3 linked regions of the Homo sapiens genome follow. The protein of the gene in region 3 interacts with the protein of the main gene of each other region in a pairwise test. Each region holds a gene or a part of one and is shown on either strand. Other genes may lie near its edges. The genes, in order: SP6, MYBPHL and MALSU1.

The links.
Region 1: the proteins of MALSU1 (region 3) and SP6 interact in binary tests that used the Homo sapiens proteins (3 or more experiments, as listed by UniProt).
Region 2: the proteins of MALSU1 (region 3) and MYBPHL interact in binary tests that used the Homo sapiens proteins (3 or more experiments, as listed by UniProt).

The regions. Positions count from the first base shown.
Region 1 is NC_000017.11:47,845,999-47,857,760, reverse strand, and holds the start of SP6 (transcription factor Sp6), read left to right. Parts: upstream 1-6,597; 5' UTR 6,598-6,842; intron 6,843-9,274; 5' UTR 9,275-9,331; coding exon 9,332-10,462; 3' UTR 10,463-11,762. UniProt on the Homo sapiens protein: Promotes cell proliferation. Plays a role in tooth germ growth. Plays a role in the control of enamel mineralization. Binds the AMBN promoter.
Region 2 is NC_000001.11:109,297,001-109,308,119, reverse strand, and holds the start of MYBPHL (myosin-binding protein H-like), read left to right. Parts: upstream 1-1,108; 5' UTR 1,109-1,128; coding exon 1,129-1,273; intron 1,274-9,862; coding exon 9,863-9,951; intron 9,952-10,502; coding exon 10,503-10,698; intron 10,699-10,930; coding exon 10,931-11,070; intron 11,071-11,119. UniProt on the Homo sapiens protein: Myosin-binding protein which plays a role in cardiac function. Seems to regulate conduction in the atria and ventricular conduction systems.
Region 3 is NC_000007.14:23,306,596-23,313,605, forward strand, and holds the end of MALSU1 (mitochondrial assembly of ribosomal large subunit protein 1), read left to right. Parts: intron 1-1,272; coding exon 1,273-1,354; intron 1,355-2,760; coding exon 2,761-2,948; 3' UTR 2,949-5,134; downstream 5,135-7,010. Other genes in the region: IGF2BP3 (insulin-like growth factor 2 mRNA-binding protein 3), read right to left, coding at 5,767-5,865, 6,140-6,253, 6,927-7,010. UniProt on the Homo sapiens protein: Required for normal mitochondrial ribosome function and mitochondrial translation. May play a role in ribosome biogenesis by preventing premature association of the 28S and 39S ribosomal subunits.

The sequences.
Region 1 (11,762 bases), on a different chromosome or scaffold from region 3:
CTACAGGCCGCATGGCACCCACCCATAGCTTTCCCAGCTCCTCTCTCCCGCCCATCACTGGTGTTAGGAAAACACATTGTCTGGAGGTGCGAATAGAGGAGGAAAGGGGGTCTCCTGCCAGGTAGGGTGCTGGCTGTGTTCATTGCTGTCCAGGCAGGGTCTAAACACACCCCTGACTGATCCAGAGGCCAGGGGAAGGTGTGTGGGCCTGAAGGTCCAGGTTGAGGGCTGGGTCTTTTTCCTCTCCCAAACTCCCCCCCAACCCCAAGATTCTCCCATCTTTTGGACTGGACCTGCTACCTAAGCATATGGAACCGATTGAAAGAATTTGTATGCTCACCTTATAATTTATGCAAATCAACTCTGTAATTAACTATAATTTGGAGGCATCCTTTGGTATTTGAGACATTTATCCATGAGGAAATGCCCTAGTGATAATGCTCCCGTATTAACATTATTTACTCCACCTGTGTGGTCTCCTCAGCTTGTTTCCCCTCCCCACTCTGATTTTCTGTGCTGGAAGGTGGGGAGGGACAGGGAAGCCCCTCCCTGGAGCCTGCCTCAGTCCTGATGCCTGGGTTCCCCCAGGGGGTTGTGCTGGCCCTGTCCTCCCAATTTTGCCTAAGATTGAAGAAAGAGGTCCAGCTCTGCCTCCTAAGCCCTCTAATACTCTATTCTCTCCTGCTTGATGGGTGGCTTTCTGCTGAGCTTTTACCTCTTCAGGGCCTCAGTGTTCTCATCTCTGAAATGGGGAGAGGAAGGACCTGTCAGGGCCTTTATGGGATAATTGCTGAAAAGTTAATGAAGAGACTGGGAATCCCCAGTCTAGAGGTTGCTGAGGGTATAGGGGAGGAGCAGGAGAAGAGTTTTGGGTAAAGACTCCCTGGCTCATCCTGGGAGGGAGGTAGCATGTAAGTCTTGGGGTACTGGGTTCTGGTGTGTGTAGAGGGGGTACAACTGCTCCTGTCCTCTGCCAAGGGCATTGGGCTGTGGTCAAAAACAGGATGTCATCCCGTGAAAAGTCCCCAGGCCACTCTCCTATGTGGGTCAGAGTTCACAGCTTCAGTGAGCTTTGGGAAACAAGTCTTACTCTTCTGTTTCATCTCCGTTCTCCTTCCTGGTCTTTTGTCCATCTCTGCCCTGGGACATGTTTGTGTTAGCCAGTATACCTAAACTTACAACCACCCTAAAATTAGGCTCATATAAATAGAGATCTGGGGGCTCCCCCTAAATTCACCTTCAGGCCCCTTCTCCCTTTTCCAGGCCACCTTCCTACCCTCTTCACCCTCCTGGAGTTCCAGGAGTCCTGAACTGTCTGTAGCAGTTCTTGGCTGGACTCTGCCTCTGGTCTTTCTGGTCTTAGGTGACCTCTTGTCCATCCTAAGCTTCCCCACTCCATCCAAAGTCAGGGAAAAGGTCCTCCCTTCCCATTTGACAATGAGAGATCCCAGGTCCAAAAGATAGATTACACTGGGTCCTCTTGGGGGATCCAAGTTGGGAAGTGAGTATGTAAAAAGAGGATGAAAAGGGAGCGAGAGAAATTGTGGCTCAGAGAGGCCAACAACACTGACATGAAGCTCTGCAAGGAGGAACTGACTTGAAGACGTGTGGTGTGTGTGTGTTTGTTGGGGGCATGAGCCCTTCAGGTCTCAAAAATGGAACTTCTTTCTCTCTTACCAAGTCCATGGAGGAAAACTCAGGAAGAGGGGATGGAATTTGGAGAGTTCCAGCTATCCCAGCTCTCCACCCTAGCAATGCTGTCATTTCCTCCATCCTGCAAGAACCACTTTGTCCCTCTCCCACTGCCCAGCCAACTCTGCGGAAGGAAGGAAGTGCCCCCAGCCCCCACTCCCAGCTGAAATCCTCCTTTCCTGGCAGACCTCACGGACTCAGATCTCACCTCCTACCACTCCCCTAGGAGAGCTGGGGGCCACTGTTTCCTGGATTATCCTAAAAGCTTCTGAGGCCGTGAGGACTTGGCAGCATCCCTGCTCCCTCCTTCACCTCCCCCTTTGGCACTGCCTGTCACCTCCTTTATAAAGCCTGGCTCTTTTATCACCGCCACTTGGCCCTCACTGCCGCCGCCAGCTCTGGGCTCCATGGACTGGTAAGAGAGGCTGTTCCCTGTCCAGTACAGGGGACCTCCACAAAGAGGATCAGGTCTCCACTCTAAAGTGGGGGTCATAGAGAAGGGTCTGGTTCTCTCTGAATTGGGAAGGGGGAGATAAGAGGGAGATCTTGGTGGGGTTTGCATGGAGAACTAAAGGGATCCCTTGGAGGTCTTTTGACTGGGCTGGGGTAGTCAGCCCAGTGGAGAAGTGGGGTAGGGATTCATAGCTGGGAACTTTATTTCGAGAGAAAGGAAGGGCAAATAAATGTTAATAGAAATACAGGGCACACACACTCACTGCCCTGAATGACAGAACACCTGCAAGGATAGTAAGGGAGAAACCACTATCCACATCCTATGGGGAACTGCATTTACGGTGGAGGAGAGAAGACACCCTACACTCAAGCCCACAGGTACACACAGGCATAATATGTACACACATTTGTAGATATACACACACCGACATACAGATGCACTATCCTCAGGTGGGTTCATCTTCTAGACTGAAAAGCGATGGTGGTAGCTAGGGATTTTGAAATTTATAATAAAATTAGTGTCCAGCATTGTGCTTGGCCTTAAGTAGACCCTCGATAAGTGTTTGTTGAATGAAATAAAGGATGAATGAAAGAAAACTATTTGACCCCAGCTTTAGGCTCTATCTGGTTTTCTAAGAATCAGGAGAGTATGGTGGGGAGAGGAGGGGAAATAAGGAATATGTTGGCATCCAGGGTCATCAGCTTGCAGGCTTGGAAGTGCAGCCCGAAGGTGGGAGTGGGAAATGGAGGAGAGGAGTGAGTGAGAAGAGGAAAACAGGACCAGACTCTGGTCTGGTCCCAGCTCTGCTTCTAACTTGCTACTAACGTCCCTGTTTTGGGGTTTGGTTTCCCTACCAGTAAAACGAGGGCTTGGACGAGACAATTTGGGGCTAGACCAGCTTTGATATTCTCATAGTGCAATCTCTACAGGACAGTTGAAGTTTGGAAGGGATCACAAGTGTAGAGTCTGACTTGTCTCAGCAATTCAAGATGGGATCAGTTTGTCCATTAGACTCAAGATAGGAGATGGCTTTGATCTAGGGATTCATTTAAGAATGCTGTTTCCTCCACCTTCAGGCTCTAGGGGAGCCAGACTTCCAGGGTCATCAATTCTGCCATATTGAGGCCAGATGGACTAGTAGGCAGAATACAGGCTTTGGAACCTGAGAGATCTGAACTCAGTTTCTTCTTCTGTCTTTTAACAACTCTGTAATCTTGGGTAGATCATTTAACTTCTTTGATCTTTGGCTTCCTCATCTGTACAACGGGAATAATAATAATTACTTTGCTGCATGCCCATGAGAATTAGAGATATTTGTGTAAAGCATCTGGAACATAGTAGGTGCTCAGTAAATAAATGCCGTTTGTGATAAACACGCAGACTAATGAGATTTCTCCAGGTACAAAGTGGATCACTGACTATAGATGAAGCTTGAGAAGAAGAGGGGTGGCAGGAATGGGGGTTGGACACTTGCAGGGGAAATCTGACTATTTATTTGAGAGAATGAGGAAGAGCAGCAGAAATGGCCCAAGTCCAAGACAGATCTCAGTTTATACAGGAGATGTGATGGGCTGTGTTGTTCAATTTTGAGTAGCAATAAGTATATGGGCAATGGGCTGTGGTGACCTTGCTCATTAAGTTAACATCAGACCATGCGCCGTCATTCGGTGGGAAAACATTTAGCAAGTGGGAAACCAAAAGGGCTGGAAGCAGAGGACTGCAAGTAGAGGGGGACTGGAGGAAAGATAGTGCCAGTACCCTGAGTGAGCAGCAGAAACCTAGGCAGAGCAGGAAATCAGAATGGCTGGGAGTTTCCAGAGACAACTGCATTGTTGTTGAATTTCCTGCTGATGAGCTGCAGGCAGATGGAGGGTCTTTGCTGGTGGAATTCCAGATGGCTACAGGTCTGGTTGGATCGGGGCAGGGCTAAAGGGGGCCTAGAGTGAAAGTAGCAGGGAGTGTCTACCATCCTCGGGCTGAATCCCTGTTGCTTTCCAGGGAAAAGGCAGAAGGGGCCAGGAAGAGAAGGCAATCTGATGCCTATAAATGGGAGGGGAACTTGGTCCCCTACCCAGAGTCAGACCCCTGCACAGGCTTTAGCACCTTAGGAACAGTAGATGCAGCACCAGCAGGCAGCTTGGAGGAGGAGGCAGGAATGCCCAGAGGTCAAATCAGGAACCAGAGTCCCCCACTGGGGGCTCTGTTTTGGACCTGATGAGTGTCTACTCCATTCCAGAGGTAGCTGTGAACTAGGATACAAACCCAACTGGCCAGGATTTGTAGGCTGAATGGATGGAGACAAAGCTGCGTTGATGAAGAGGATTGATTGTCAAATTAGCCATGGCCACAAAGATCCAGAGCAGTTCCTGTGAATCCACATCCAGAGCCCCAAGTAACAAGAAGGCAAAAAGCAAACCCCGACTGATCAGAAATCTCAATCCCCCGATGTCAGGCGGCATCTCCGGCTTCCAAATACCTGTCACTTCTCTAGCTTGGTGGCTGCTTTTACAGCATTTCACCAAGGAAGAAACTGAGGCTTAGAGGCACCTGACCTGCCAGGGTCAGTTTAGCAAGTGCAGGGCTGGGGCTAGAATTTAAATCCGTCAACTTCTAGTCCACAGGTCTTTGTGCATACACCTTAATCCAACCAATATTTACCTGGAACTGACTTATTTAATAATTATAACAAGGATATCTTCCATTTACCCGGCGCTTACCAGGGGCCCCTTGGGCTAAGCATTTTTAGGCATATCAATTCCTTTAAGCCCCCAGGAGACCCTACCAATGTGTACCCAGGTTGTCCGGATGAGGGAAATGAGCCTTAGAAAAGAGGGAGATGCACAGATGAATCCGACGTCGATTCTGGATAAGAACGTGTGCGTGTCTGAGGGGTACCATGCACATACGCATACACACATGGATTGATTTTCACCCCGCTTATGCACTCGGTTTAGCTATTTTTGAGTTACAGTTTGAGTGTGTCCCAAACGGGCATGCAGGACAGGTAAACCAATGGCGGGGGGGAGTAGGGGCTGTAGAGGCGAGATTAAATCAGCCTAAATTCAAGTATGAAATCGACTGTAAAGAGGAAAACGAAATTTTAAAAAGCCGACGGCAAAGCGCACAGAGGAGACGAATCTGAAAAATGAAAGAAATAGGGAAATTAATCTGCATTCCCCTGTGAAAAAAGGGGTCACATGGAGAGATCAACACTGCGGCATGGGAGTGAAGCATGGGGCCACCTCAGCGGCCAGGCAGAAGAATGCGTGGGTGGAGGACGGAACTTCCCTACCCACCGGTGCTTTGCGGGTCTCGGAAATGTCGACCCATCCAGATCTTGAGGGAAGTTTTTGTGAGCTCCGCGAGCGCGCTGAAATTTTACCAGAATATTGCACTGGGCATGTGAATTTTTCTCAAAGGAATCCAAGACCCCTCCCCAAAGTTAAGAACCTTGGGTTTAGTTATTCTGGTGAGAATTAGAAAGGAATGGTGGCAAGGGATAGCTCAATTCCTTCCAGAAGTGTCCCTTCCCAGGGCCATTCAGGCGCCTGCCCATTCTTCAGAACCGGGTGCTCGGGGGCGAGGGTGTGCGTAGGCTGAGCATTTCCCGAAGGACAGGAGGGCGAGGAGAGGCGAATTTGAGAGGTGGATTTCTTAGGCACTGGGGTTGCTACCTAAGGGGAGGGGCAGAGTGACAGCTGCTGGGACCTGGGACCAGAGTAGGGGGGAAGCAGAGACCGGTGGTGGGCAGAGGCTGGGAGAGGGGAGGAGAGGAGGTGGTCACCCAGAAAGGTCAGAGAGGGATACCCCGGAAGGGAGAGGGAAAAAAGGACGGGGAAGGGTGGTGGTGGAGAGAAGCGGCGCGGGGTGCGGGGGGTGAGGCAGGGCAGGGGACGGGGGTCGGGGGTCGGGGGAATGGCGAAGGAGGGCAGCCAAGACAAATTTCACACGGCCTAGGCCTAGAGGCGAACTGGAAACATACTTGGCGCTCAATCTTGTTTCCTTCTTTCCTCCCAGTTCCGGGGCAGGGCTGTCCGTTCAGAGAGGGTCAAGGGCCATCGAGGCAACCTAAGGGTTGCTGCCTAAGGGTGGCTCTGTCTCACCCCCAGGACCTGCCCCCTTATCCATTCCCCCTGGGTCTTAGTCCTGCGTCCTCTGCTAGACCGAGCTAGCTCCAGGGCAGTTTTCCACCCGGCGGGGCGGGTCTTAGAACCTGGGAATCACCCCACCCGGGCCCCTCTCCCTGGGAGTGGAGGGGACCAGGGAGGAGCGAGGGAGCGGGCGGCGCACGCCCTAGTTATCTTTCCTCCCCCACTCCCGCCCACCCCCTCCTCGCGGCCCTGGCTGGGCTCCGGTCCAGCCGAGCCCTCAAGGGTTAAAGGCGGCCGCAGGTGAGGTGGGCGGGGCCGCGAGTCCGGGGGAAAAAGCAGCGCTGGGGAGAGGATGAAGGCAGAGAGCGCGGGTGAGTCACGGGCGGAGCTGGCCTTGTTCGCTCGCTGGCTCCTGCCCGCCCTCCGTCCTCCGCCCTCTCGCCAGCGCTCACCTCCGCCGCCTGCCGCCTGCCGCCAGCCGCCGGGTCTGGCTCGCCCTGGGCTCCTGCCCCTTACCGCTGGAGAGCTCGCCGGCGCACAGGGCCTATGAGCGACCGTCAGTAGCGCACCAGCCAGCCGTGCCCGGAGCCCGCCGCAGCCTCGAGGTAGGAGCGCGGGTCGGGGTGGCCAGGGGTGAGCGCTACGGAGATTGTCTCGAAAAAACGCACTCCGAACGCGCCCCAGCCTCCTATGGCCTTGGGAGCGGGGTGGTCCTAAAGGATCTGAGAGGTTAGAACCCCGATGGAGGGAAAACTGGGCGGACGGGAGAGACTGGAGGGACCGAGGAGGCTGGAAACCGGGGCAACTGGAGCGACTGGGACAACCAGAGGACCGGGACATTGAGAACTGGGAGTACTAGCCGGTGATCCAGAGAGGCAGAGCCGAATGGGGCATAAGGGTGCACCGACTTGCCTTCCCACTTCGGGGAGCGAGAAGCCTGCGATGTACGCTGTGCTCTCTCCTTTCCTGAACTCTTTCTAGGCCTGGAAGTGAACCGGACACATACTTGGCACTCAATCCTGTTCCCTTCTTTCCTCTCAGCTCTGGGGCAGGTGGGTCAAGGACCATAGAGGCAACCTAAGGGTTGCCACCTAAGGGTGGCTCCATATCACCCCCAAGACCTGCCCCCTCCTCTATTCTCCTGGGTCTTAGTCTTGCATCTTCTGCTAGACTGAGCCAGCTCCAGGGCAGTTTTCCACCCAGTGGGACTGGTCTTAGAACCTGAGAATCACCCCGCTTTGGGTTTCTGAAATCTTGGTAGCAGGCCATTGCATCCCAGGCCTGGGCTCTCCAGCTCTCTGCCAGGAGAAGCCACTCTGGAGCCCAGATTATCCTAGCCTTCCCATCCTCCAGCCCCTGGGGCAGTTCCCAGGCACCAAAAGCTGTTAGGGTCCCTGGCTTCACAGCTCCCGCTCAGCCCCTTCTGTGCTGCCCCACCCCGGCCTGGGGCTCCTTTCCTGCAACTTCACCCTGTTTTCCTCTTGTGGTGAGGCAGCCGGAGCCTGAGTAGGTGCCCCCGTCCTCCTCTCCCTCCCTCTCCCAGGCTATCAGTGCCACCTCCCTGGTCCCAGAGGCAGGAGATGGTAGGGTCAGCTAAGCCCTGCTGTAGGAAGGAAACAATCCTGCCCTAAGTCACTGGTCTCCTCCCCCACCAGTAGAGAAGACCCAGGCACACAAACCTGCCCAGCTGAGGCACCAGGGCTTCCAGGCCTTAGGGAGAGGTGGTGAGAAAAGAGTGAACTTCAAGCCACAGATATGTGGTTGAGAAAGCGTTGGGGGTCTTTAGCGTTCTAAGGGTCTACAGAAAGATTGGTTTACAGAAAGTAACAGACTGAGAGTCCAGGAGTTAGGAGACCTGGTTTATTGAATGAATAAATGAACATCCTTGTCCAAGTCACTGTGCCAAGTCATTCAGTCTGCTTCCTTCTCTTCAAAATAAGAAGATTGGCCTGGAGCAGTGGTTCTCAACATTTGCTGCATATAAGAATCTTCTGGTGGTGGTGGGGAGCTTCTGAAAAATGATCCATGCCTAGGATGCACTTGCTTATGTCATCTTTTTGGGCAATTCTTGCTCTTAGGTTCTGTGGTTATGACTTCTCTTGTTGCCCTCCTCTTCCTGCACTCTGACCTTGTATCACTTAAAGGGGTGCAATTGTATCTTCCAGAGCTTGCTGTCAAGCTCTTCTCTGGGGAAGCCATTCCCTCCCAACTTTCTATCTGGGCCTCCCCTAGCATGGAGAGGAAGATGGGTAGCAGTCAGAGAGTTGCCTGGCACTGGTATGAGTCAAGAGAGGGATGGAAATTTGGTTTTCTCTGGTGGGGGTATCTCCCAGATTCCAGGGGTATCTGGTGGCCAGAAAGCTGCTCCCCAGGGAGGTGAAGTCCCTGCTTGAGGGAAGGGGGTGGGGGCATGTGAGTCGGTTTAGTGGGCCCGATGTGACCAGGCCAGGCGGGGAGCAGCGTAGACGGTGAAATGCTTTTCATTACTGAACATGCTTTGGGAATGGCATGAGAACTCTTTCAAAGACTCAGGACCCGTTTGAGGCTTTATGAGGGGCAGGTCACCTGAAGCTTTGGGTTTCAGAAATAGACCATCCCCTCTCCCATCTGTATCCTGAGTTAAACTGGGGAAGCTGAGATGTGTCTAGATCCTCCATTTGGGCTGACAGCAGGTCTGCAGGGGGAAAATGCCACTGCCCCTTGTGTTGGCCTGGGCAGCTGGGGTGGGGATGGTTCTAGCACTGTGCTGTAGGTGTATCTGACCTACCATCCTGGGAGTGGCCCAACTCTAGGGATGAGCTGGGTCATACGGCAGGGATCACCCAGAGGAAGGTAGACCTCCATCATCCTCTGTGCTTGGATGAGAACCTCACATCTTGGACCCTTCCTCGCACTCCCGAATTCTCTAAACTCATCTCTAGTCCTCGTTCAGAGGTGCATCCTTCTTTTACACCTGGGGCCAGAGAGGAGGACCTGGGTTAGGAGGGAAAGTGAGCTGGTTATTTCCCTTACTTTTCTGCTTCTTCGCCTCCTTTAGGTCCCGTCTGAGGTGCCCCTGACCGTCCCTGCCCTCACCCCACCCCGGATCCCGGCAATGCTAACCGCTGTCTGCGGCTCTCTGGGCAGCCAGCACACGGAAGCGCCGCACGCCTCCCCGCCGCGCCTCGACCTGCAGCCTCTCCAAACTTACCAGGGCCACACGAGCCCTGAGGCCGGGGACTACCCCTCCCCGCTGCAGCCTGGAGAGCTGCAGAGCCTCCCGCTGGGCCCGGAGGTGGACTTCTCGCAGGGCTATGAGCTGCCAGGGGCCTCCTCGCGGGTAACCTGCGAGGACCTGGAAAGCGACAGTCCCTTGGCCCCGGGCCCCTTTTCCAAGCTCCTGCAGCCGGACATGTCACACCATTATGAATCGTGGTTCAGGCCGACTCACCCAGGCGCGGAGGATGGCTCGTGGTGGGACCTTCATCCGGGCACCAGCTGGATGGACCTCCCCCACACTCAGGGCGCGCTGACCTCACCTGGCCACCCGGGGGCGCTTCAGGCGGGCTTGGGGGGCTACGTCGGAGACCACCAGCTTTGTGCCCCGCCACCCCACCCGCATGCGCACCACCTCCTTCCAGCTGCCGGAGGGCAGCATCTCCTAGGGCCGCCCGACGGGGCTAAGGCCTTGGAAGTAGCCGCCCCGGAGTCTCAAGGGCTGGATTCCAGCCTGGACGGGGCGGCGCGTCCCAAAGGCTCCCGGCGGTCGGTGCCCCGCAGCTCAGGCCAGACCGTCTGTCGCTGCCCCAACTGTCTGGAGGCGGAGCGACTGGGGGCTCCATGTGGGCCCGATGGGGGCAAGAAGAAGCATTTGCACAACTGCCACATCCCGGGCTGCGGGAAAGCCTACGCCAAGACGTCGCACCTGAAGGCGCACCTGCGCTGGCACAGCGGCGACCGTCCCTTCGTGTGCAACTGGCTCTTCTGCGGCAAGCGCTTCACGCGCTCGGACGAGCTGCAGCGCCACCTCCAGACCCACACCGGCACCAAGAAGTTCCCCTGTGCAGTCTGCAGCCGCGTCTTCATGCGCAGCGACCACCTGGCCAAGCACATGAAAACCCACGAGGGCGCCAAGGAGGAGGCGGCTGGGGCGGCCTCGGGAGAGGGCAAGGCCGGCGGCGCAGTGGAGCCCCCCGGGGGCAAAGGCAAACGCGAGGCCGAGGGCAGCGTGGCTCCCTCCAACTGAGCTCCTCAGTGCCGCCTCCCTGCGGGTATCCCGGGGGGCACTGGATGCGAGCCCCCAGGTCTGACGTCCTTGGGGGTGGCTTGAGGAAGAGGGGAAGGTGCGTATTTATTCAGGGAGGAGGAAAAGTGGTGCAGGGACAGGGAGATGGGGCGCTAGGGGTTCTTAGTCTCTGGGGCTACTAGGCAGGATGAATTTGACTGGGTCGGTAGGAGCTGCGCAATGCCCCTCTGTTCTCCCCTGCCTCACAGTTTCCCTCGCCCCTGGGCTGGGGGGTTGGGGTGGGACACCCGTACCGCGGCTGGCTGGCGGGGACAGGCTAGAGGAGACAGCAAGTCCCAGTCCCCGGAGCAGAGAGAAGTGGGGCCGGCCCGGGGCGCTGGTGGTGGCTGTCTGGACACGTCCTTAGCGCCTGGGAACCAGGACATAAAAGCGCCTCCGGAGCCGCCCTGCGGCGGGGTCCCTTTCATCCCACTTAAAGTGCTTCTGCCCCTAGGGTTTCCGGAGGGAGAGCCGAGATGGGATGGGGGAGCCTGGGGGTCCCCCTTGGCAGGGGTGTCTCTTTCTGGTTTGGAGGGTTGTTGCTGTAAAAATAACTCCTTTGATGAGCTTCCTTATTAACCCTTTCAGACCCAGTCTGTTGGAGCCATGAAGGAAGAGGGAAAGAGGGCTGCCATTCCTGACAGCCTCCCAGCCAGGGCTGGCGATAAAGGACCGAGATAGATGGAGGGGGCGAGTAGGGAAGTCCTCTTCTAAAATGAGAGATAGGGATTTGGTGGGGTATGGAAGGAACTAACCCCTTCCCTCTCCACCTCTGATTCAGCCCTTAATTCTTGGTCTATGATAAATAAAGTTCAGTAGTCTCACATTCCCCATCTATTACCCTAGGTGTGTTTTCAAGGCAGCCAGCGGTAGAATCCATGTAGTTCCCACCAGTTGCCTTCCCCTCAGGGATGGAAGGAAGAGGGTTTCTTGGGCTGGTTGAGGGCAGATTGGGGGTGTCTCATCAGAGGGACCTCCACTGGTTCCCACTCAGAGTGGAGGCCTGCAGCCTACCTGACCATCTCTTTAGCTGTCACCAAGAAAATAAACCCCACTGTCTCTCTAGCTTGGCCCTTGTCTTTCCCTTGCCCCTGCCATAGCATGTTCATTAGGGGATTCCTTCCTCCCCCTCATCTCACAGGGGAAGGGAGAGGAAAGAGTTGTTCTCCCACTGGAAGGGGTTCTGCCTTCTGAGGTGACATCCAGGAAGCTGTCCCCATTCCCTTCTCCTTTAGATGCTAGAAACACATTTTGATTCTGA
Region 2 (11,119 bases), on a different chromosome or scaffold from region 3:
TCCATGGCATGTACAACACGTATAGAAAGATGGTTTGCTAAGTCTGGAAATCATGTAGGACCTGTAGTATGTGACTAGCACCTGCTGTGAGCTGGCCACTTTCCTATAGATTGTATCATTTTATCCTCAACACAATCATGGCATCATCCCTTGTTTCATAGACTGGGACTTGAGACTCCGAGTCGGCCATTTGCCCAGAGTCCCAGCTGGTGAGTGAGTGGTACAGCCAGAAGTCACACGCAGGTCTCTGAGCTCGCCTCCCTCCACCACTGCTGCCTCTCCCTTTATTTGTACTTCATCTAATAGGCAAGGCAGCCATTGACAGCTCTCAAAGGGGGAAGTGCTGGCCTGACCTAAAAATAGCTTACATTTATCAAGCACTTAGTCGGCTACACTCTGCTAAGCACTTTACAGAGATTACCTCTTTAATCCTCACAACGACCCTATGGTTATAATTATCTCCATTTTACAGATGAGGAAACAGACTGAAGAGAGACTGTGAGGTGTTGTGAGTCACACAGCTAGTTGGTGACAGAGCCCCAAGTGGCACCTGGGCAGCCAGTGCGAGTGCAGTCTCCACCTACCACTGCGCTGTGCCCGCTGCCCCCGGGGAGCGGGGGAGGATGGGACAGGCCCTGTAAAGGTCGAGTTGATAAGACTTTACAATTCATTGAATGTGGGAGCAGAGGGAGAAAGAGCAGTTCAGGCGTTGCTGTGAGTCAGCTAATCCTGGGCCCCTTCTTTGGGACCTGAATGCCCCACGGGATGAACTGGAGGTCAGGAGCAGAGATGTCACTCAACCCTCCCTACAGAAATTAGAGGTCCCTTTTGGATGGTGTGTTCAAGCTCTCCCTCCCTGGTGCTGTGGGGGGTGTCATCTCTCTCCCGAGATAACAGGGACACCTCAGTCCTCCTGGGGCTATTCTGGGCTGCTGTCTGATCCTCCTCTCTCCCCCAACCCCTACTTCAGCCTTTCTGCTGGGCGTAGCTGAGTGGGGAGGGCCAGCCCAGTTACGTAACCCTGTGGCTGGGACCCGGGAGGCCAGCCTGGGAGCAGGTGCTCAGCCCCTCCCTCATCACCAGCAGTGAAAATCTAGAGCTGGAGCTCAGCCTCTGGGAAGGCCCAGCATGGAGGCAGCCACAGCTCCGGAGGTGGCCGCAGGATCCAAGCTGAAGGTGAAAGAAGCCAGCCCAGCGGATGCTGAACCACCCCAGGCTTCACCTGGACAGGGGGCTGGCAGCCCCACTCCCCAGCTCCTGCCCCCTATAGAAGGTGACCCATGGCAGGTGGGGAGGGTGGGGAGGCCGGGTGGTGGGAGTTGGGGAAGACATCGCCACCTTCCTGAACGGCGCCTCAGGTTTTCTGCAGAGCTAAAGACTCTATAGGATTGGTGATTAGGCTGGAGATCATTCGTGAGAGCCCCCATCCCCTGTCCTTGATGGAGTCTAACTTGCTGCTCAAATGTCCCTGCTAAGTTTTTGTGTTTTAGCTGAGAAGTCAGTGATGGTGTTGGTGGCACTTTACAGTGACTAAAAATGATCTGTTTATATTTTTACCTTTTAAAAAATTGTCATAGGGACTGGGAAGACCTGATATACTAATGGCCAGTCAGGAAGGGACTGAGGGGTAAGAGATAGTGACTGTCTGCTGAAGGAACAGGGAAATAAAATGCTATGGCAATGGGGAGGCTAAGAGTGGGGCAGCACAGTGACACTCGGCCTCCTGCTGGGCAGTACCACGGGGTCAGGACCTCCTCCAATCCCCCACTGCTCCCATAGGAGATCCTGACCCCTCAGAGTCTGAGCTCCACGGAAGTGGAGCTCTCCTGGGAGAAGCATTCAATTTCCCCTTCACGATGGTCTCTGTGTGCCTCTCAGCAAAGAGGCGTTCCCAAGTGAGGAATTCCAACCCCGAGCTTCCTGCCGCCCATCCCTGAATGCCCTGGCTGAGGCCTCTGTAGCTAACCACTTCGTGGCGCTCACCTGAAAGTCTTAAGAGGATGAAAAGACCACAATCAAGAAACACGTGGACTCCTAGGGCAGGAAGAGGCAGGGGAAAAGATATACTAGACTTGGAGGCAAAGCTCTAGGCTCAATTCCTAGTGCCGCCTCTAACAGCCCTGTGACCTTGGACAAGTCACTGGACTGCTCAGTTTCCATTTTCACTCTGTAAAATGGTGATTAATAACATCTACCTATCAGGGTAGTTGAAAGGATTGCTGAGATGATCCAGGGTGCCTTGGAAGAGGCCAAACTAAGATGTAAATAAATGATCAAATATTTCCAAGTGAGAGGTGAAGGCTGCGTTCTACCTCCATAGGGTTGTGCAGCAGACTCTGTCTGCCTCTTATCCTCATGGGAGAGGCCAGGTTTCCAGAAACTATTTGAATGTCAAGGGCAGAGAGCTGGCCAAGTTTGTCCCGTTGAAGATGAAGGGAGCAAAAGTTAGTGTAAATATATTAAGCTGGGGTGATGGAGGCAGAAAACCAGTTTCTTCCCTTAAAAGGCCCAGAGAATAAGTGACAGGCAGCAGGAGAATGAGAGCCAGGACTGCTGACGCCTCAGCTCTCTCTACTGGTCTTCCCAAAAGCACAAGGGAGAGTGCTCATCTCCCCCATGCTTCTCCCCTCTGGCTGCAGCCAGCTCCTGACAGCCCCCAGTCACGGGCCCGCAAATGCAGCCCAAAGCCTCTCGTGTGCAGCAGCTCTGTACACTGCAGGCCTCAGGGCCACTAGCACCCAGTGGCTCAACCCAGTGGTATCCCAGAAGTCACTGGCAATAAGAACACCTTTGAATACTTTGCAAAATATATGTGCATCTGTTAACTACTTGGAACAAAGAAGTCATGAGTTCAAATCTTAGCTCTGTTCTGTGGCCCTAGGCAAGTCAATCCACTCCCATTTTCTCATCTGTAAATTGAGGAGTTGAACCAAATCAGGGTCTTAACCTTTTGGTGGATATGGACCCCTAGGAAAATCTAATGCCAGCTGTGGACTCTTGCCCCTGGAAAAATACACAAAAAAGTTCAGAGAGCCAACAGAGCCCCAAACCCCCACCAAAGATCCTTCAGGGTGCAATGCATGGGCCTGGACTAGATGACCCCTAAGCCCCCTGAGAGCTCCAAAGCCTTTCTTCCTCCTAACTCCTCTTCCTTACAGAGAGCTCTGGGACTGAGTATCACAGGAAGCATGTGAAAACATGGGAACTAGAGCAGGCATCAGAAATAGAAATTAATTTGCAAGATCAAAACCAACTGCAAATGGCCAACAATGAGCTTTTAGTTTGGCAAGCCTGCTACATGGCTAAATAAGCAGGAGTAGGTGGCCAGCATTGGTAAACAGTTCTATGTCTGTCCTCAGCACTACACTGAGTACTGTGTCCTGGAGACAAAGCTTGGCAGGGGCCAGAGAAGAGCTTCCAAAACAGGGAGAGGCTGGGGAACAAGCTGCATCCCTCCCATGGACAATGTGACACTCGGCCTCCTGCTGGGCAGTACCACGGGGTCAGGACCTCCTCCAATCCCCCACTGCTCCCATAGGAGATCCTGACCCCTCAGAGTCTGAGCTCCACGGAAGTGGAGCTCTCCTGGAAGAAGCATTCAATTTCCCCTTCACGATGGTCTCTGTGTGCCTCTCAGCAAAGAGGCGTTCCCTGGGACCCTGAGGTGGAGGAGAAAGAGCCCATCTGCTGACTTCAGCATCATCGCTCCAACTGACTCTGTGTTCTCTTTCAATCTGAACTGTTCTGTGTCTTCCAGGCATGGGAAACTGAATCTCATGCCTAGGAGTGACCTTTCTTCCCTCCTTCCTTCCGTCCTTCCTTTCCTCCTCCTTCCTTCCACAAATATTTAGGTTGTGCCTATGATGTGCCAGGCGCTCTTCTAGGTGCCAGAATTACAGAAATGAACAAAATAGGTAAAAATAACTGCCCTCATGGAAGTTAGATTCTAGTGGAGGGAGCTAGACAATAAATAAACAAGTAAAGTATCTAATATGTCAGATGGTGAGAAATGCTGTGCCAAAACTAATGCAGGGACGGGGATAGAACGTGCTTCGGGTAGGAAGCATGCAGGCTTCCTGCTTCAAATGGAATATTCAGTGAGGGTCTCACTAATAAGGTGACATTTGAGCAGCAACTTAAAGGATGTGAGAAAGCAATGCATGCAGATATTTGGGGGAATATTTTCCACACAGAGAGAACAACTGCAAGGACCCTGAGGCAGGAGTGTGCTTTATGGGTTGGGGCCATTGTGGCTGTAGCACAGGGAGGGAGACAGTGGCAGTATTTCAGTCTGAGAGGTAGCACGGCCGCTGTGAAGACTTTGGTTTGTCTACGAGACAGCCAGCCAGCCAGTGCAGGGACTGGGAGTAAGGACTGACAGGACCAAGTGTAGATTTTAAGGATTTTTCCAGCTGGCCATGTTAAGAATAGACTGTAGGTGGGCCTTAGACACTAGCAAGATCGACAACTGGGAATGAGAATGAGGGAGAAGGTAGGGAGGTTTTAGAAGAGAAAGGTGTGCGATAGTCACCCAGGACAATGGGAGACCGAGTGAACTTGGGAAGTCTAGTAGAATTGCCAGAGTTCACTTGGAGGTGGTGGTCACTATTAATGGCCCTCAAGTTAAACTCCATATAATTTTGTATTTTCCCCCAGTCCTGTTACTCTGTGCAGATACAGCCACTGAGTGGGTGGGAAGTTTATTTAACAAGGGTTAGGTATTGCCAAGAGAGTGCAATGAAGTCAAAGAGGACTCAGGGATTTGAGTGAGTGCAAGAGAGAGAGTATAATAATGACCGTGCAATCTAAGTTGGGTGGTGAAGAAAGTGCTAACATGAAAGGGGTGCTAGGTAGTGAGAGGGTGGTAGGACAATGGATCACAGATCTCAGTGGTGCCAAAGAATTGCTGGTGTTGGAGCACTGGAGGAAGTGAGCTAAAGGGATAAAGATTATATTAGTTAGGTATACTAGTGAATGAAACAGGTCTCAGGAATGACATACATCTATTTCTCACTAGCGTAAGAACTAAAAACTATTCTGCAGATAGTTCTCCTCCATGTGGTAATCCAAGGACCCAGGCCTCTTTCATCTTGGGGCTCTGCCATTCCTTAGGGCCCGTGATCATCTGTGTACAGCTAGCAGAAGAGGAAAATAGAAATCTAACTTCTTCAAAGCCTGGGACCAGATGTGATTCTCACCATTGCCACTTACGTCTCATTGGCAAAAACTGGTCGCGTAGCCATCCAGCAAAAGGTGGCCGGGCAGCCACTTCTCAGAGATAGCTACGCTACGGAAGGGGTAACATACATTTTTTTTGGCCAGTTAGCCATCTCTGTTATAGAGGTGGTGATGAGACAGTGGGATGCTTGTAATTCTGATCATAGAAGGATTGTAGCTCTTGGTCTAGAGAATGGCCACAGGGACCATTGGCTGAATTAGGAGAGGACAAAGTTATTGGAGGAGTGGTGGGCCAGATGTGAGAGACCCTACGGGGACTGGAAACATGGGTGTTGGGACCAGCAGGAGTTATGCCTGGAGAGGCATACCGCATGGAGAGGGTGTTGGAGAGACAGTGAGCCAGGGCTAAAACCATCAAGCACTAGGGGGACGACTGTAACATAGGGACGGGGTGGGGTGGAGTCTTTTCCTCAGAGAAGTGTTGCCTGTTCCTATGTCCTTTTATTTTTTCTGACCTTAGTTTCATGGCCTTCAAGAAAGTGACACTCTTGTACCACTCCTTTCCCATTGCACTCCTCCAGACAGGTTTCTGAGTAGACCAAGGCCACATCCTAGGCATCTGGTAATGTTTCTCTAAGAAATCCCGGTACTTCTTGGATTTCTGGAAACCTCTGGATAGTTTCAAAGCCATAGCTAGCCTCCTGCATTCGCCCTCTTTTGGTAACCCTTCACCCACATAGGCACGTGTGTATGCAGGCTCCCTCTCTCTCTCACACACACACTCTCATACACACACATACACACACCATTCACAGACACACGTAAACACACCCATACACACATTCATGCACGTACACAAACACACACATTCACACACATACACTCACACACACATACATACACACTCATACAAACACACACACACCCTCTCCACTTCTCCAATGCTTCCATCTTGGTTCTTGGCTCTCCAGGTCATAGTTAGTAACATCGGTCTGAACTATACAGCCCCTAGGGAGCCTCTGGAGAAAGACTGATCCCATAAAAGGGAATTATGAGAGGATAGGAACAATTATAGAATAGTAAAACAGGCATAAACTTTAGCAGGATAAAAGTAGGGTAGGTATTAGGAGGAATTTTCTAATCAGAAGTCAAGATCTTTGGACTTGAAGTAGTTTTCTCTCTTTTTTTTTTTTTCTTTTTGAGATGAAGTTTTGTTCTTATTGCCCAGGCTGGAGCGCAATGGTGCAATCTCGGCTCACTGCAACCTCTGCCTCCCAGGTTCAAGCGATTTTCCTGCCTCAGCCTCCCAAGTAGCTGGGATTACAGGTGCCCGCCACCACACCTGGCTAATTTTTGTATGTTTAGTAGAGATGGGGTTTCACCATGTTGACCAGGCTGGTCTTGAACTTCTGACCTCAGGTGATCCACCCTCCTTAGCCTCCCAAAGTGCTGGGATTACAGGCATGAGCCACTGCGCCCGGCCTGAAGTAGTTTTCTCTAAGAATTTTTTAGAAAGAATTAAACAGCATCCTGTCTGAGAGAAACATTGTACAGAGAGAGCCTAACTCAGAACCAAAGGCCCTCAAAGGACTTTTCAAGATGCCTTTTCTCTAAGACCCCATGAAGGGAGAAAACCAAACTGTGACTCTCACAGACCTGCTCTTAGAAAACCTAGGCTCTTAAAGACTCTAGGCTTTGGTTCACATCCCTCCTGTCATCTAAGGAGGAGAAAGACCTTGGGCATCAGGGGAAGCCATGCCTCCCCAAGGTCAGTACAATTTACACCTCGCTTGACTGCGGATGTGTGAAAAGAGATGCCTCAAATGAGCCCCGGCGTTCACATTCTTAGCAAAGAGTCAGATTGCGCCTGGGTTGGGTTGAGAGGCGATTGGAGAGCATGCTGCTGACCTGCTGACTGGGCATCTGAAGCTGCCACACTCTCTCCTGCCACCTCTGCACGTAGTCAGCTGAGTTAGCCTCACGTCCATACTCTGCCCTCCCACAGGGAGCCGGGAGCCTGCTGGGAGCAGAGGCCTCACCTACACATCCTCAGAGTCCATTCTAGAGACTTAAGTTTCGTCATCTTGTCAGGAAACCCACTGATAAGCAGAGAACCGGCAATGGAGCCGTCCAGGGAGGGAGAGACTGCCGTCCTCGCGGGCAGCCTCCTTCCTTGCTCTCGCGGGCAGCCTCCTTCCTTGCTCTCTGCCCAGCCAGGATCCCCTCTAGATCCAAGGGCCAGTCTGCTCCTCTTCCTCTAACTCCCACACCTTAGCTTATGTTCCACATAAACCCATTTCTTTCATTTTTCTCTTTAGTTCAGGTGTAAGAATGCTAACATTTTCCCAGGTGTTTTTCTAAGAAACAAAAGAAACACTAGGTGGAAACACATACATCAGCTCACAGCTACCCATAACAGCCCATTCCCTACCTGAGGTCTCAGCAGGGCGGGGCTCAGCGGGCACTTCTGTCAGGCATGAAGGCCTGGGTTCCTCTCCCCACCTCAACCCTTTGCAGTTCTTGGGTATGTCTAGCCCCCGCCTTCCCTCTGGGCCTCCTCCCTCCAGGGGCAGGCCACTGTCCAAGCCCTGACTATGGTGCTCATTGCTGGGTGGACACTGGTGGGCAAGACACAGCTAGTGCTCTGAGAATGGGTCCTTCAGACACACAATCTTAGATGGGGAGGCAGGAGTCTCTGGTGCCAGGCACGTCGTCACAGCTAGCCGGGAGGTCTCCAGAATACCGGCTTCTTTCTCGGAGCCCTCTTGCTCCCAGCATCCTTGTTCTGGTGCTTACAGGCCCTTCCTAATGCCGACATTCTGTAGGCAGGCGGCACAGGGACAGCAGAGCCAGCTTCTCTCCAGCCCTCTCCCCAGCAAATGTAGAAAGGGTTATTTCCTCCCCCAACAGTGGGGAACCAAGCCTGACAAGATGAGGTTTTGACCCTCCTTTCCAAGTACGGCCCTCTTTTTCAAAACACTATTAAGTCATATCCGCCCGTCTTCAACTCTTTGGTTGCTTGCCAAGATGGCCACAGGAGAGAAGCCCATCACACAAACGCTTCTTCTGTTCTTCATGTCCCGCCCCTCCCAAGCCACCAGAGCCCAGCCGAGGGCAGCCACAGCAGGGTCACTCAGCCGCCTGCAGCTGCTGCATCTATGCTGAGGCAGTCAAGACCTGAGCAGGGCAGGGAGGACGGGCACTCAGGCCCATCAAGTCCCCTCGTCACATATTCCTGAGGTGCAGTCTAAGACAGGCACAGCCCAGGTGAAAACATAAGCCACACAGCACAGAAGGAAACTGCAGAAACCAAACGGACCGTGTGCACTGTACATTGCCATTGATCTTCATTTGCAAAGGTCTCGCGACCTTGAGATTATCATGGGGAGACTCAGAGTGAAGTTCTCTGGACAATGCTTGCTGATTGAGCTGGAGGAAGGACACAGAAGAAGCTCTGTTTCAGTTGCGTCACTTACATGTTTGTGTTATGTAATGTATGTATTTAAACAGTTCATCTATAAGTAAACATACATATGTCATAGTGAATGCTCAGGGAAGTATTTTCACAGAAGTGTGTGCTATCAAAGAGTCTGGAATCCACTATCGAGCAGTCATGCTGTTTGCCACAGGAATGTACCAGGGGTGAAGTTCTTCCAACTGCCAAGAATGAACTGTGGCAAGAATCCTGGGTTGTTGGGAACTGAAGCACTATCACATTCTACTGAAGATAATATCAGCCAGGCGACTGCCTGTGCCTGAGAAAGGAGGAGACAGCAGCCAGGAAAAGGCCAGAAAATGGTGTCTGTCTCAGCCAGGCCCCCGAGGGAACGCAGGTGGAATGTTTGTGCTTCGGCAGCTGAGACAGTGTGAGGCATCCCAAGAGGAGAGAAATGATACCTGGTCAATCTCCAAACCTACACTCAGCACTTTTCCAAGCATTTCCTGTCTTCATCCTGGAAGCCCATACACATCATCTAATCTCTACTTCTCACTGGGACAGACCTGTGAGATCAAAGGGAAATGAGTGGTGGACCTAATCTGTCCCAGAATCTGTACAAAATGATCCTCTGCAAACTGGAAGAAGACTGTGCAGGCGCCCGGGAGCAGAGTGGCCATGCAGAGGAAGGGACCCAGACACGTGCTCTGTCTGCAGTGACATCAGTGTTGTCTCCGTGGGCGGCTGGGAGGTCAGGGTGTTGACTCTGCCTGCAGAATGGAGAGCATTCTCCTGAGACCCACACCTAACTGGGAGGTCAGGATTGACATGGAAAGTGGCCTTGATAAAAGGAATGGTATTAAGGACAAATGTAGAAAAGGGTGGAAAGACAAACCACACAGACCAGGCTGGTCTGTACACAAACAGAAAAATAAAAATGCCTCCATCAGGATGGAATGCCTCCAGATGATGGAAAGTCAGTACTTGAGAGTTACAAATTAAGAGAACTGTCAGACTCGCACTCCAGTGTTCCTTCTGCTGAGACTTTAATGTTTCCCGGGGTGTTCCTTAAGCCAACCCCTCATCCCCAAATCCCAGCAGGATGATGGGAGCACTCTTCCCCTCCCCTCTAAGAAGGGCTTAATTTGGTGACCGATTCCTGGGCCACTCACCCACAGCAGGCAGCTGGATGCAGGATTTACTTTCTCTGAGTATCCATCTCCTATTCTCTCTCTTTCCATCACTCAGAGCACCCCAAGATCTGGCTACCTCGGGCCCTGAGGCAGACCTACATCCGGAAGGTTGGGGACACAGTGAACCTACTAATCCCATTCCAGGTGATCATGCCAGCCCCATACTGGGTCCATGTCTGGGGCCAGTGCAGGTTTTGGATTTGGAAACAGATACCAAGAGTCCTGCTAGCAGAGGGGCAATCTTCCCAGCCTTGGATAGAAGGGGTCACACCACCAGAAGTCTGAGGCCAAATGACCTCTGCACTCCTGAAGGTGGGTTTGGATAGGACTGGGTGTGCACCCATGAGATGGTGTGAGGCTAATCCATGCCCTTCAGTCTACAGAAGCCTCAGAGCTTGCAGTTAGAAGGGTTCTTGGGAGTTTGAGTGGCTATTCAATTGGTCCCAGCTGCCCCGGGTGTTCATGACCTAAGCTCTCAGAGATTGGGAGACTCAAAGCCATCCCTCTTTCCCAAGATCCTTAGGCTGTTGCTGAAAGGAGGAGGCCCCCGGGAGGGTCCACCAACTTCTAACTCAAGGAATGTGCAGCTCCAAGTCAAGCCTCCCTGTGGACCTGGGGTGGACAGGACCCCTACAGCAGCAGGGAGAGTCAGGAAGCCTCTCGGGGCTGCTCAAAGCATTACCCTCATTCCTCAGGGCAAGCCCAAACCTCAAGCCATCTGGACACATGATGGCTGTGCCTTGGACACCAGGCGTGTGAGTGTGCGGAATGGGGAGCAAGACTCCATCCTCTTCATCCGAGAAGCCCAACGTGCTGACTCAGGTCGCTACCAACTCCGCGTGCAGCTGGGTGGGCTGGAGGCCACCGCCACCATTGACATCCTGGTGATTGGTACGGTGGGGGAAGTGGGAGATGGGGGGGTCCTCAGGAACTCCCTCTCCAGGCTGAAGAGGAGCCAGCTCAGAGAGCTGGGGAAGCTGCGGCAAGGCTCCCACGTCATGTCTGGGACACAGGGTGGGCGCAGGAGGGGTAACTGAGGAGAAAAAGGGGCTAGGGCACTCCTGAAGTGACTTCAATGCATGTGGGATGTTCCACGCCCACTGCCATGGCTTTGCCCTTTCAGAGAGGCCAGGCCCTCCTCAGAGTATTAAGCTGGTGGACGTTTGGGGCTTCAGCGCTACACTGGAATGGACACCGCCCCAAGATACGGGGAATACAGCACTTCTGGGATACACGGTGCAGAAGGCTGACACAAAATCCGGGGTGAGGCCAGCTGGGAAGGAAGGAGGGTGGAAGAGGGCATGTTGGGACA
Region 3 (7,010 bases):
GAGGTAATTTCCTTTTATGCCCACTTTGTTGAGTGCTTTATTGTGAAAGGGTATTGAATTTTGTTAAATGCTTTTTCTGCGTCAGTTCAGATTATCATATAGATTTTTTCTTCATTCTGTTAATGTGGTGTTATTGCATTGATCCGTTTTTATATGTTGAACCACCTTGCATTCCAGGGATAAATCCCACTTGGTCATGGTCTATAATCCTTTTAATATGGTGCTGAGTTTGGTTTGCTAGTATTTTTGTTGAGGATTTTTGCATCAAATGTTCATCAGGGTTATTGGTCTTATGGAATGAGTTAGGAAGTGTTCCCTGTTCTTCAATTTTTTGGGGAGAATTTGAGTATTGCATTCTTGTTTAAATATTTGGTAAAACTCATCAGGGAAGCCATCTGGTCTAGGACTTTTGTTGGGAGATTTTTGATTACTGATCCAGTCCCCATACTAGTTATGGTCTATTGAAACTTTATATTTCTGCATGATTCAGTCAGTAGATTGTGTTTCTAGAAATTTTGCTATTTCGTCTAGGTTACCCAGTTGTTTGGTGTACAGTTGCTCATAATACTCTTACAATCCCATTTCTCTAAAATCAGTAGTGTCACTTCTTTCATTTCAGATTTTAGTTGTCTTTTTTCTTAGTCATTCTAAGAACCAAATCCTAGTTTCATTGATTTTGTCTTTTTCCTGCCCTAATTATCATTTCCTTTGATTTTGGGGTGATGTATATGAGATGTCCTTTGTCTCTTGTAACAGTTTTTACTTAATTGCCATCTTGTTTGATATTAGTATATCTGTTTTAACAAAAGAACTGAGCACATTTATAGGATGACGGGGTCCCATTAACATGTCATAAAGGCAGATGAGATGAAATCAGTGGCACTGAAACAACCTGGCTTTATAAACAGAAGGTAGTATCTGCAGCCCCTAAAGGTGAAGGAAAGCTGGGATGAACACAAGTGATGGATGTAGGTGGGTACCAAATGCTGACTGAGCTTAGCTTTTTCAGCCTCAGAGGCACCTTGGTGAATGAATGGGGTGACCCTCTCAGAAGGGCTGGGGCAGGAGAATTCAGGAGAGAGGTGAAAGTGAATAAGATTTAGAGGGAGAAATAGTTTCCCTAAGTTATTCATCACAGGGCAAAGTATAGCAATGAGAAATGAGTAAGAAAGATTAAAAAAAACAAACAAACAAACAAAAAAAAAAGACCTTCAGCAAGAACAGGCTTCCCCCATCCCCTCTCCCTTTAATAAACCACCTGGCTTTTTGCAGTACAAACACCTGAAATGTAAACGTGACCCTCATGTTAAGATAGAAGGGAAGGACACTGATGACTGGCTGTGCGTGGATTTTGGTAAGTTATTCTGGCGTATTTTACAGGTAACTGTTGGTACTACGCTAATCTTGAATTGTTTTCAGTTGCAAAAGGATTGAGATCAAATTGATGAATGTATTTCCAGGTAAGATTTTTGAAGTGTGTTTAAGGTAACAAAAGTTTTTTTAGTTATAATCCAGGTGGTCTTATTCACATGTAGAATTTTCACCTAACCAAACCAAAGTACCCTAGATGATGCCCTCCTGGAGGAAGATATATACTACATGGTGTGTATCTACTAGCCACACAGATCAGGAAGGTGGTGGACAACAGGATAACATAGTAGAGGCGGGAGAGATTCCTTAGTAGTGGTAGAGGAAGGTTTGGGGGCTGTGGTGCATAAATGAGATGAGGATGAGGTTATTCCAGGCACAAAAAAGGACAAGAGCAGAAGACTAGAATTTTGAAAAGATCTAACAACTTTGGGTATTAATGTGTACATAGTTTCAAAGCACCTCCCAACAAGATAATATTTACAAAGGGGAAACATAACTGTATGTCAAGAACTGAGGAGTCTGAGATTTTATTCTGCTTGTAAGCTAATACATTGTCCCGCCAGTTTTCATGGACACTGGTAAAAGACAAGACTATTAGAGGGTTAGAGACAAAGAACAGTTTATTACTCACAGCAGTAGCCAGCATCCATTTTGCACTGGTTTCCTGAGCTCTGGATTCCATAGGGCAACATGGGCCAGATGACACCAGCACACACAGTTGTAAAACTGGAACTCAGATGAGGGTGTCTAGGTTTTTTATAACTGGCAGGAAGCAGGCCTACTTTTGCTCTGATGGTTTCTCACTTTTGTCGCTATTAACGTTTTGGACCAGGTAATTTTGCATGTGGGGGAGGGGTGTCTCTTGTGCACGGTACGATGTTTAGCAGTATCCTCCCTTCTCCAATTGTGACAATCAAAAATGACTCTAAACATTACCATTATTACCTAATTGAGAAATGCTGCTGTAAGCAAAGCTGCCCTTTGCCCTGGAGGGAGGCAGTATCTTTCTGTTAAGAATATTCACGATACAAACATTCTTGGATAGTCAAAACAAAAGGCAGTCAGTGTTTTTGCACAAAAGATGTGCAGAAGTGTGTTACCCATGGAGAATTGTCACCGAAGAGAATCCTGACACCATTAGTCTCTTTGATAAAGTTACTATCACCAGCAATGTTATATATTGACATATGCCTCCTGTAGGTACACTGAGAAAGGCATAGCATCACTTCTGTGGTATTTTTGCTGGGATGGAGTCCACAGTGATGCTAATCTGGGAACCACACTTGAGAACCACTGCTTTATTCCTAGAGTTAGCCAGTGTGTGTTGTAAGGTAAGAATAAAAGCAAATGAACTATTCCTTCATTGTATCTCTTATCTGTCCCTGACAGGCAGCATGGTGATTCATTTGATGCTTCCAGAAACCAGAGAAATCTATGAATTAGAGAAATTATGGACCCTACGTTCTTATGATGACCAGTTAGCTCAGATAGCACCTGAGACAGTACCTGAAGACTTCATTCTTGGAATAGAAGATGATACTTCATCTGTGACTCCAGTGGAGTTAAAATGTGAATAAAATATTTTATGCACTGCGTTAGTCATTTCAGATTTGGATTGAGTCACTTATTGGAAAATACAGCTCCTAAAGTCCGTCTCCTTGGTTAGGCTGCTCTTAGGACAAGGCTTGTGTACCTCATGGGCACTCCTGCTAACTGGCATGCAGAGACTGTCGATAAGTGAGCTATACCTGCAACCAAAAATCAGTACATTCTACCCAAAACTTATGACACGCTGCCTTTATCCTGGAAATGTCATCAGAATTTCCTGGAGTTAGCACTGGCTCCTGTGCTTGACTTCTCTGCTCAGATTTTTATTAATTTAATTTAGCTTAAATGTAAATCTTAACCCTGTTTGTTTAATGGAATGGCAAAAATTTTAAAAAATAATATAAAACATAGCCCACTGGTCTTATTTTTATACTTTGAGGTGATAATATTCTTCTAGGAGGACTTCTGTAACCCTTCCAGAATACTCCAGTAACACAAGAAAGTAAACAAAGTGTTTGTTAGGAAAAACTCTGAACGCTCTAGTTCTTAGTTCATATGCAAGAGTATTATCAAGGTTCACATTAAGTACCATGGCTGGACATGGTATAACAGAAATCTGCGTAGAGTTTGAAAAAAAATTCAGAACATTCCCATTCAATTGAAAACCAAAAATAAAACATACTACACAACAAGCTGCACCTAAATGATGAAAAAATTTATTCTGCGTCAAGGTATCTGGAAAATGAAGCTGCATTTGGGGCACATTATACATGAGGAATGATCCATATATGGTGAGTACAAAACTCAATTATAGAATTATTTCTTAGCTAGTACCAGATACTCCAAATTACAAATGCTTAAGTAAAAGTAAAATATGATTTGCCATACTAAAAGGCTAGAAGTGAAATATGACAGAATTTAAACCAGCAGATATAAATGCAGCACCTATGTGTATATTTTTAAAAAATCAAATATTGGGGAAAAAAATCAAATACTGAGAAAAGCTCTGGCCTTAAACACATCTTACCTGAAATCCAACCAGAAAGCCAGTCCATGATTTTAGCAATTTTAATTCATTGTATGAAAAAAAAATCATGAATGCTAGGAGAATCCAGTGACAAAAAGGGCACTTTTTTGGTTAAAACTACAAAAGAAACTTGTTTTCAGAGAACATTAAGGAAAACACTTTAAATCATTTTCAAAATGTCTAATTGATCTTCAGAAAAACATCTAGTCTGTATAGAAATTCATCTTGAAATAAGAATGAGGCAGTGATTTTTTTTTTAAAGGGTTATATATATGTCCTTTAGATCAGTGTAACATGACTGTGATCATCTTACAAACAAAACTCAAAAAATCAATTCAGAGAGCAGCGTGGCCTTGGAGACCACCCACACCCAACACAATTGTACGTACTGGGCTTTGCTGTCAAGGAGTGAGCAAATGAGTTCGTTATCAAAGGTCATATGTTTTCACAGTCATTCAAATTATATCCCAAAAACTTTTCTTGTATTCTCTATCTTTTGACTTTTTTTTCAAAGAACTGATTGCACAGTATACAGAAATCCTGTTATACTTTACTACTTAAGGTGGAGTCTAATTTTTTTTTTTTAATTTATCAGTGCTTAAAAATCTTCAAAATAGCTTAGTGAGGCTCATGACAGTGCTGGCCCCATGGAAATGTAGCCTTTTGTTGCGTTTAAACACTGTCACACCATCTATGACTGTCCCATTGGTCTGAAGTGTAGTGGCAAACTAAGCATCCTATAAGACAAGCTAAAGCTTGCTTTTTGCCAGTCAGTTGAAAGTCTTGCATCTCTTCACTGATGCACTTTCTTTAGGTATTGATAGTCAGAAGCACAAAGCATTTATTATGCATTCAATCATGTAGCTAAACAAAAAACTGAAGTCTCCTGAAGCCATTTAAACCAGCCGTTCCAAAATCTCCTGCGACCACTTTGTTAGTACCGTCAAAAACTTTCCCAACTATAAATGAAAGAATAAATGGTAGTGCTGCTCTCCAGATACTAGGCACTGCTCCGTATTTTTGAACATTTGATTTAACTAATAACTGTGTCAAAAGCCTCAAAAAACCCTGAAATTAATTTTCCAGCTTTACTGTCACCAGCCAGAAGTAAAAATCTTAATTTGCCTGTTAGCTGATTGCTGTTAAATTTTAAATTTATTTTTTAAAAAACGGTTGGACTTCTATCATTATAAAGTATATAAAATTTTCAAAAAAAAGGAACAATTTTGCTTTTCATTGTATTACTGAATACCTGAGGTAGTTGAGTAAAAATGCACGTTTAATACCCCTGCCAACACCATTCAGCACTTCCCTTAGGTTACTCATGTTAGTGTTAGGTAAAAATAAAACTGAGAACAGTTTTTCTATGCTAATGGCTTAACATTTAAGTTCCTGTGATAATTATTCTGATCCAATTTTAACAATTGGATTTAGGAGCAATCTATTTGATGAATTTAGTGAAAGCATCATTAAGCCAATTTCTGGCATTATGGGGGAATATTAAGAAGAATTAGAATATCTGTTATACTGTGAGACTACAACAAAGGGAAGTGCAGAGCTCTTCTCTTTCCCTCCCTCCCCCACCCTTTTTTTGTTTGTTTGTTTGTTTGTTTTAAAGCTGGGTGTCATACATTTCAGAGAGCATAAAGTATACATTCTCACAGAGACAGGAGTTCAAAAGTTGCCTGGTCCTCAGAAACAACTGGCTAGGTAAAAACTTGTGCATGTGATTCTGGATAGGGGGTCAGCGCCCATCTGTTGGTTAAGCAATCTGTCTTTGGTTTGGCATCTGCCTCTGTGGTGGGCTGTTTCCTGAGCCTTTACTTCCGTCTTGACTGAGGTGGTCCACTTTGCAGAGCCTTCTGTTGTTGGTGCTGCTTTACCTGAGTCAGAATTTCCTGAATTTTTCTCTGGGCAACCTAGAAAAGGACAGAGCTTTGAAATTCCACTTGATCAAAAGCTACTAAAAGTTATTGTACTCCTTCATTTCAACAATTTCAAATAGAAATCCATTTGATGATTAAAGATACATACTAGTCAGTTTGCTAGTAGTCTCTGAAATCACCCGCTAAAAGGGAGATGAAAAGTCTTAAGCATCAAACAACCTTAACTAATTCTATCAGGTAGGAGCACCTGTGGGAGAATTGCTTCCACGTGAGAAAGATACAATAGCTTATTTTAGAGCCCACTTGCCTGGCAAGCATAGAAGTGACCAGTTATTTTGACAACCACTTGGTCATTCTCATCAGGTGTCTGGTCACGAGGGACAACAACTTCTGCACTTGACAAATTCTGAAGTTCATTCACCTGAAAGAGATAAATATAAATCACATTAAGTGGCAGTTTTAAAACCTTACTTCCTAAGCACTTACTGTGCGCCAGACAGTGAGCTATGTATGGCTTTACAAATTTCATTTAATCCAGTGGTAATTCCATGAGGTTATTAGAATTATCCCCACTTCAAGATGATTAAGGCTCATCCAAAGAAACTGATTTGTCCAGTTATACAAGTGAATGGCAAAACCAGATTCAAATCCTGAGTCTGATTCCAAAGTGTATGTACTCAATCACTTCAAAATTATAAATAGCTTTGAAACCCACTTACAAGTTATATGTATTAGAGACTAGAAACAGTTTGCTTTTTTTCCATTACAGATGTAACAAGCTGTAGATGAAATTTTTAAAATTCCTGTTAAGTGTCTGTTCCATAAAAAGCTAAAGTTTTATCAGGAGAACGTTAAATGCCCTTTATAAATATAGGACAATCCTCTCACACAAAGTGATCTGAAAGAGATGCATTACTTTCACTAATAGCTGGCACCAACACTCAGACAGGAAACAAAAGGCAATCTTCTCCAAACCTTGGTCAAGATGGTCCTGCTTTTTATAAATTAGCCAAAATTCGGGGACTTGGAACTCCTAAGTACCTTTCAACGCTTTCCCTTTCATACCACTGCACAGGTTTTGCTGAAGTACTTGCCGTTTTGCCTCCTTTTCCAATAACTCTGCCAGCAGCAAAGGATGGCACTCTGATATGAGCTTCAAGTTTCACCTCTTCTTTAGG